Linked DNA regions of Homo sapiens. The protein of the gene in region 2 interacts with the protein of the main gene of each other region in a pairwise test. Each region holds a gene or a part of one and is shown on either strand. Other genes may lie near its edges.

Evidence for each region.
Region 1: the proteins of KATNIP (region 2) and KATNBL1 interact in a two-hybrid assay, tested with the Homo sapiens proteins (one large-scale study listed by IntAct).

Annotation. Positions count from the first base shown.
Region 1 is NC_000015.10:34,139,992-34,144,232, forward strand, and holds the end of KATNBL1 (KATNB1-like protein 1), read right to left. Parts: intron 2,381-4,241; coding exon 2,348-2,380; 3' UTR 683-2,347; downstream 1-682.
Region 2 is NC_000016.10:27,752,478-27,756,295, reverse strand, and holds part of KATNIP (katanin-interacting protein), read right to left. Parts: intron 2,124-3,818; coding exon 2,045-2,123; intron 1-2,044. UniProt on the Homo sapiens protein: May influence the stability of microtubules (MT), possibly through interaction with the MT-severing katanin complex.

The DNA.
Region 1 (4,241 bases), on a different chromosome or scaffold from region 2:
TAATACTAATCAATTCAATAACTGAGAGGGGTAGGTACTAAGGAAACTGCAAAGGCCAAGAACAGAAATTAGGAGTATATGCTACTCAATAATCTTTGTCAGCTAAAAACTCTGCTGACTTATATAGCTCTGAGTATGTAAGATAAAGTATTATCTACATGCCTTCAAAAAACCTAAATTTAGGTATAAATGTTACCAAGATAATACCTGTTCTTACTATATGTCATTTGTACTTAATTTTTCTGAAGTCTGATTTATTGAAGTTTGATTTTTGAAGATACTGTTTAGTCAATGATCTGACCCAGAGAAAAATGTGAAAAATATCTGATGTAATATTACTTAATACTTTGAAACTAAACATTACACAGTATTTTAGATATCTTATTTTGAATCTATTATTTTAAATGTTAGATTAAAAGTCTACAGTATCACATATACCCATTGAGTAATCTTTCCATTTGAGGCGAAAGGTTTATGCTAAGCTATACATACCATCTTCCTGAATTTCTGAGATGGATACCTGACGGAAGGTGCAATCGACAGCTATAAAAACATTTTGTGTGTATGTAAAGTTAATGAACCTACAAAAGCATCAAACTCCTGTCCACGGCCTCTTTAGCACCATACTCCAACCAAGTTAACTGGTTCAAACTGCTACATAAGACAGTGATAACTACAGGAATAAGCACAAAGAAAGGTTATATTTTATCATGTTAAAAGTTTCACAGAGATAACAGGTTTACAATTCAAATTCCCATGTCCTGAAAACTGGCCTCTTAAATAACTCACCTCTCAAATCACAGACGTGCAATAATCTGAAATTATTATAATCTAAAGACTTAAGGAAATAACCAATTATTACAATTCATGTTCACTGTGAGGAATATCTAGCTATATAAAATATAGCTACACAAAACCAGAACTCAGTGAAACATAACTTTTAAGAGCAAGAAATCTGCTTGAGATTCGTATCAGTAGTCATTAAACGAATAAATGCTAAAGGTTTACATTCAAGTGCTTGAAGGACTACTGCAGAGAAATTCAATTACTAAAAACCTTTGCTCAGATGCCTGTCAGGCATATTAAGGATGGGATGATGTGTGAACCACCAGCAGTGGTATTAAACCCCAATCATTTTCAAGACAAGTAAGATTTAGAGCTGTTAAGACATTCCAGAATTTGGTTCACTGACACTAAAAGTGGTATTTTAAAAAAAGACCTCATACAGTCTGCTAGCATATCATACTAACCATTAGAGGAGGTAGTGACACAAAGTGTTGGAATTTAAAATACAAGATCAGCATTAACTGTAAACCATTCTAAATCACTGTATGTAACTCTTTAAAACATATGTAGTGAAAAAGAATTAGAATTCATATAAAATCAGAATTTAAAAAAGCAAAAAATAGAAATATTTAGTGAATTTACTCAAATGAAGGAAGTTTAAATGATACAGGAATGAAAAATATTAGAAATCTATGTACAATAAAAAGTAAATATAAATTAGCCAAGTCCATGGACATTTCCAGTTAAACATTCATACAAAAACATATTCACCTTTTTCCTTAGATAGGGATAACACATTCATACATGACATGATGATTCTGGCAAAAAATATCAGAGATACTAAAACTATTCTCAAGTTTTAAAAATGGTGCAGAGAGTGTTTCAAGAACACTCTACAAGAATGTAAACCCCTGATTTAATTCCATGATTTTATCATGCCAGAAGCATGGTTGGTTTTAGTTTTTTAAAACAGATATTGGTATCATAACACATTGGCTTATTAATAATTAAGGCATTTTACATACACAGTATCTCAGTGTGAACAAAAAATGTTTAATATTGATTTTTTTCATGTTTTAAACTTTCAGTCTTTTCAACATAAGAAAATAGCTGCACACATTTAAGTGTTTTTTTTTTTTAATAAAACACAATCTTAAAAAAGTTAATGATGATTGGTCTTGGTGGTTCCTAGTGGTAAGTCCTGTCTTATTTTTTCACATAGTATAAATTATATTTTTATGCAGGATTGCATTAAAATCCAGTAGTTCTTAATGTTACCAAATAACCATATAACTCCCAAATGCAGCAAAGGTGAACAATCTTCATAGTGCACTTTCACCTCAATGAAATTGAAGCTGCTCCTTTTGGATATTTTTCCACTTCAATGTGAAGCAGATTGCTGGGATTTCATTAGTGGTTTCATTACGTGGCTTTTTAAAAGAAAAAATAGTTTTGATTTCTTCCACAGTTCACAGTTCTCAGACGAGACTTTTTTTTTTTGTAAATTATACAGTTCAGGGATGTTTTGAAAAACCAAATGCTCTTTAGTAGATGAAATCTCTCAATGTAACTGTAATAAATAAGCATCTACATCCTTAGAAGATAAAACAAAAACATTTCATTAGACAGTACAGTAAATACAAACATAAACAATCCATTTTTTTTTGTTGTTGCTTAATTTGCCTTAGTTTCCTTTTGTGACCTTTTGAGGGTAAAAGACGTGCCTTGTTCAGTGCTTTTATCTGCATTTGTTCAGCACAGGGCCTGGCACATAGTATGTGCTCAATATATATTTGCTAAGTGCTAAATGAATGTGTTGGTTCCTATGCTCAAACAACTCTGCTTTCATAGCTAACATTCACAGAAATTCTATCAGTGCTGTTTACTATCAGTGCTATATTCACTTGAGCCCAGCTTGACAATAGCCTCTTTCAATTTCTTTCTCTTTTTTTTGAGACAGAGTCTTGCTCTGTCACCAGGCTGAAGTGCAGTGGCGTGATCTTGGCTCTCTGCAACCTCCACCTCCAGGGTTCAAGTGATTCTCCAGCCTCAGCCTCCCAAGTAGCTGGGACTACAGGTGTGCACCACCACGCCCGGCTAATTTTTTGTGTTTTAGTAGAGATGGGGTTTCACCATGTTGGCCGGGATGGTCTCGATCTCCTGAGCTCGTGATCTGCCCACCTTGGCCTCCCAAAGTACTGGGATTACAGGCATGAGCCACCTTGCCCGGCCCTCTTCTTTCAATTTCTATACTCAAAAAATTACAAATTAATTGATGGTTTAATTTTGTAAGAAAGTCTCATCATAAGGAACTTCGCATTGAACTTTTAATCACTCAATATTGTCCCCAATAATAAATGGTACCTTAAAGTCATATTCACAATAAAGCTTTTCCCTTTGTAAAAAACTGATTGTGGCCGGGTGTGGTGGCTCCCGCCTGTAATCCCATTACTTTGGGAGGGGGAGGTGGGTGGGTCACTTGAGGTCAGGAGTTCGAAACCAGCCTGGCCAACGTGGTGAAATCCCGTCTCCACTAAAAATACAAAAATTAGCCAGGCATGTGTGTAATCCCAGCTACTCGGGAGGCTGAGGCAGGAGAATCACTTGAACCCAGGAGGCAGAGGTTGCAGTGAGCTGAGCTTGTGCCACTGCACTCCAGCCTGGACGACAGAGCGAGATTCAGTCTCAAAACAAAAACAACAAAAAAAATTCTGATTGAAAGCAAATTTCAGTCATAAGGAACAATCATTTTTTAGTTCTTCTATACAGAATGCAACAACCCTTTAGAGCAAGGTAATACGTCATGTATGCTCTAAAAACCTAAAACAACAACAAAAACTTTCTAGGAGATTGATATGTTCATAAGATTTTCATCATTAAGAATTCTATAGGCCAGGCGCAGTGGCTCACGCCTGTAATCCCAGCACTTTGGGAGGCCAAGGCAGGTGGATCATGAGGTCAAGAGATCAAGACCATCCTGGCTAACATGGTGAAACCCTGTCTCTACTAAAAATACAAAAAAAAAAAAAAAAAAAAAAAAATTGCCAGGCATGGTGGTGGGCGCCTGTAGTCCCAGCTAATCGGGAGGCTGAGGCAGGAGAATGGCGTGAACCTGGGAGGTGGAGCTTGTAGTGAGCCGAGATTGCGCCACCACACTCCAGCCTGGGCGACAGAGCGAGATTCCATCTCAAAAAAAAAAAAAAAAAAAAAAGAATTCTATAGAGTAAAATCCCACACAGTGGTAACAAACTTGGTTGATATATCATTTTGCTTCTTTTTTTTGAAGGTATCTGAGAAATTTTTTTTTTTGGGAGAGGGGCCATGGTCTTCCATAGCAATGGCCAGAGCTCCTCTGTGGCTGTCACTTTGACAGGAGATAAGCTTCTGGTTGGTCACTGTTGGTATCACTCCCATTTGCTTTTCTTCCCTCAGCTACATTAATTCCCTGAAAGCTT
Region 2 (3,818 bases):
CGAAAGTAATTGAGAGTGCGCCCTGGAATGTAAGGGGCTATGAGAATTCCAAATAAGGCACCTTCCTCTAAGGCACCTTCTAAGAGATCATTGGTCATTTTGGAGTAGGTGAAGGAGAGATGAATTTTCACAGGGGATGATAGAGAAGACTCCTGGGGAGGAGATGCGGTCGCAGAAGGGCCATAAGGGAGGGGATGTGGAGCTCACTTAGGGCACTGCTCAGACCCCACCTCCCACCCCCAGGAACAGAAGGACTTAGTCCTCTGGTGGCGGGAAGTGCTGACGGCTGGCAGCTCACCACTGAGGCTCTTGACTTGTGACTGCCCTTGGCTGAAGAGAGTCTCCTTGCAAAAAGCCATGTCCGGCTGGGCACAGTGGCTCATGCCTGTAATCTCAGCACTTTGGGAGGCCAAGGTGTGTGGATCACCTGAGGTCAGGAGTTCGAGACCAGCCTGACCAACATGGTGAAACCCTGTCTCTATTAAAATTACAAAAATTAGCCGGGCGTGGTGGTGGGCACCAGTAATCCCAGCTACTTGGGAGGCTGAGGCAGGAGCTCTCTTGAACCTGGGAGGCGGAGGTTGCAGTGAGCTGAGATCATGCCACTGCATTCCAGCCTGAGCGACAGAGTAAAACTGTGTCAAAATAAATAAATACAAATTAAAAAGTAAAATAAAAAGCCATGCCCCTCCCCAGGGGCAGCCCATAGCCAGTGCCATGTTGATACAGATAAAGACATGGCCCCTCACTCAACTCAGGATGACCCCAAAGGGCCATCCCAGGTTCCGAGCTCCCTGTGGAGCAGGCTGAGGCCTTGAAGTGGCTGAACCGCAGACCAGCTTCTCCCTCTGCCCAATCCTGCCTCCTACCCTTCCCTGACAAGAGCACACCCCAGGAAACTCCATCTCAGGGTCTGTGTCTAGGGAACCTAGCCAGCGACAGGTGGTCGTCAGAAGGCAGAGATGGAGCAGGGAGGCATCCTAGGTGGAAGGTGTGGCTTGCACAGGTGCCTGCAGGTGGACTCCAGAGATGGCATGGGGAGGTCCCGGAAGGGCTGACACCAGGATTCGGAGAGGCTCCAGCTTCATTTTGGAGATGAGGATGGGGAGGTGGGGAGGGGATCCTGACAGTGTCACATCTTTTGTCTCAGAAGATAAAGTAGAAGCGGGTCACATTCACAGGGGGCAGGAGAGAGCAGGAAGTGAGGCTGCCAGGAACCTGGTTAGCAGGGTGCAGGAGGGAGGAGATCACAATCAGCAGTGACCTTGGGCTTGAAGATTCCCCAGGACGGGGAGGGGCTGATGTGGACACGCATGGATGAAGAGAGGAACTGGCTGGAAGGATCAATGGAAAAGAAGGGTGAGGAACAGGCCCAGCAGAAAACCCCTGGGATTTGCTCAGAAGTCACAAACTGGCAGCCAGCTGGCCAGATACACAATAAGTGTTTTATTTGGCTCATGTGATATTTTAAAACATGAGAAAATTCGTTACACACATTTGAGAATCTGGAGACTTCACGTAAGACTCTAGATTTCCGACTTCTTCTGAAAAGTCAGAAGACCTGGTACCCTGGGCCTGTGCACCTGCCCCCACCCCCGGGGCAGAGTGGATGCAGGTTTTCTCTGCCTGTGCATCTACTCTTTGGTGGAGTTGGAAGAGACAGCTCGGGGCACTGCACCAACAGATGCCTTGGGTCTCTTCAGGCTCTAATGTCCTCTTGTTCTACACTTTCTGGGTGCCAACTACACCTCCTGGGTCAGGGTCATGGTCACAGCTAACACATAGGGTGTCTGCATGCAAAAATGCCCCTCAGGGAAGGCAAAATGCTAAGAGATGCCCCTCCTCTGGAGTGAGGTGGCCCTGCTAGGGCCAGGGAGCTGAGCGCAGGCTGGTTTCAGCCTCCACTTGCCCCATGGCCTGGTGTCTCTGTACAGTGTCCAACCCACCCGATTGTCCAGCGAAACCCTGTCCCAAGTGGCCACAACTCCCCCTGTCCCTGGAAGGTCCTCCTTCCACCCAACACTGCTCCAGGAGAGCTACTCACAGATTCCGTGGTAGATGCCTGGCTCTGGCGTGGTGACTTGGGGGACAGGGGAACTGGATGGGAGCTCTAGCTCCGGGATCTGCACATGGGTTGGAGAAGCAGAGGAAAAGGGGGTGGTTTTAGTGATACCCACACAGCTAGCTGGCTGGCTGTTTCTGCATTTACCACTGCCCACCCTATGCCCAGGTAAGTCCTTGTGTGTTTTCCTGGATTTTTCTGCCTTTGTGGAAGCTATGGGACCAGTGATATGGGCGGACCCTGACCCTCCAGGGTCTGCATCCTTGTCAGCAGCTCTCACTGGCTGGGGAGGAGCCTGATGCTAACAGCTAAGGTGTTTAAATTTCCTCCAACAGGGAAGGACTCAATAAATGCTTATGTGGTGAGCTAGAGGAAGAAAGAAAGGAAGGAAGGAAAGGAGGAGGAAGGGAAGAAGAGAAGGAAGGGAGAGAGGAAGGAAGGAAGGAAGGAGGAAAGGAAGGAGGGAAGGAGGAAAAGAAGGAAGGAGGGAGGGAGGGAGGGAAGGAAGGAAGGAAGGAAGGGGAAGTGGAAGAATTCAAACCATAGAGAGTGGCTCTTAACTTTGGCTGTTCACTGAAGCAGAATCTCTAGGGGTGGGGCCCAGACATTTTTAAAGATCCACCCAAGTGATTTCCACGGGTAGCCAGGATAAAAAATCCTGGTCTTCAGAGAGTCAACGGTGGGCCACCACACCCTTCTTGGGCCTTACATATAAACTATTTGCTCATTGTCTCTTTGCACCATAAGTGAAGGCGCTGGTCTCTCACGAGACTGAGAGAGTGATCCCCCCAGCCCCTCACAGCGCTGGGCCCATCAGAGTCCCTTACGAGCACCTTTGTCATTTGGAAAACGCTGGGCAAATGGAAGCGCCCAGGGTAGACTCCCACCTGGAGACCCCTGGGTCGAATCAGGAGCACAGGCACGGCTTGTGGCCCAAAAAAGGTTTGAACACATCTGAATTCACTGCCAGCATTTTTAAATGGAGAGGTTTTACAGAAAAATCCAGCTTTCTGGCTTCTCTTGTAAAAATCAGGAGAACTGGCAACAATGGGCTTGCCCCTCTTGGTGGCCGCTTTCCTTAGATGTGGGGAGGGGGAGGGGCACGCACTCCCCAGCTGCCTGTGCCTCCCCATGCCCTGCTCCTGCACCCCATGCTCTGCCTGGCTGCGAGGTACAATCCCCAGGGAACACCATGGGGTCCACACGACATGTTGCTGTCCTGCCTCAGTCATGACCTTCCCACAGCCCAGCCCCATCCCTTGTGGCTTGTGTTGTCCCCATTTCTCCCCTACCCTGTTTAACCATCTCCTCTTTTTCCTATTGGTCCTGACTTGAATTGACCTTGAAGGTCATCTTTCATTTTAAAAGATTTGTTTATCTGGCTAAGTGTGGCGGCTCTTGCCTGTAATCCCAGCACTTTGGGAGGCCAAGGTGGGAGAAGCGCTTGAGTCCAGGAGTTCATGACCAACCTGGGCAACATAGCAAGACCACATCTCTACAAAAAATAAAAAAAAAACTAGCCAGGCATGGTGGCATGCACTGTAGTCTCAGCTACTCAGGAGGCTGAGGTGGTAGGATTGCTTGAGCCCCGGGAGTTTGAGCTGCAATGAGCTATGATCACGCTAGTGTACTCCAGCCTGGGCGACAGTGCCAGGCCCTATCTCTAAACAAAATAAAAAAATAATAAGTTGCTTACCAATTAAAAGCATAAACTGTGGAATCACGCATTCAAGTTCTACCCTTGTTTCTCTGTCAC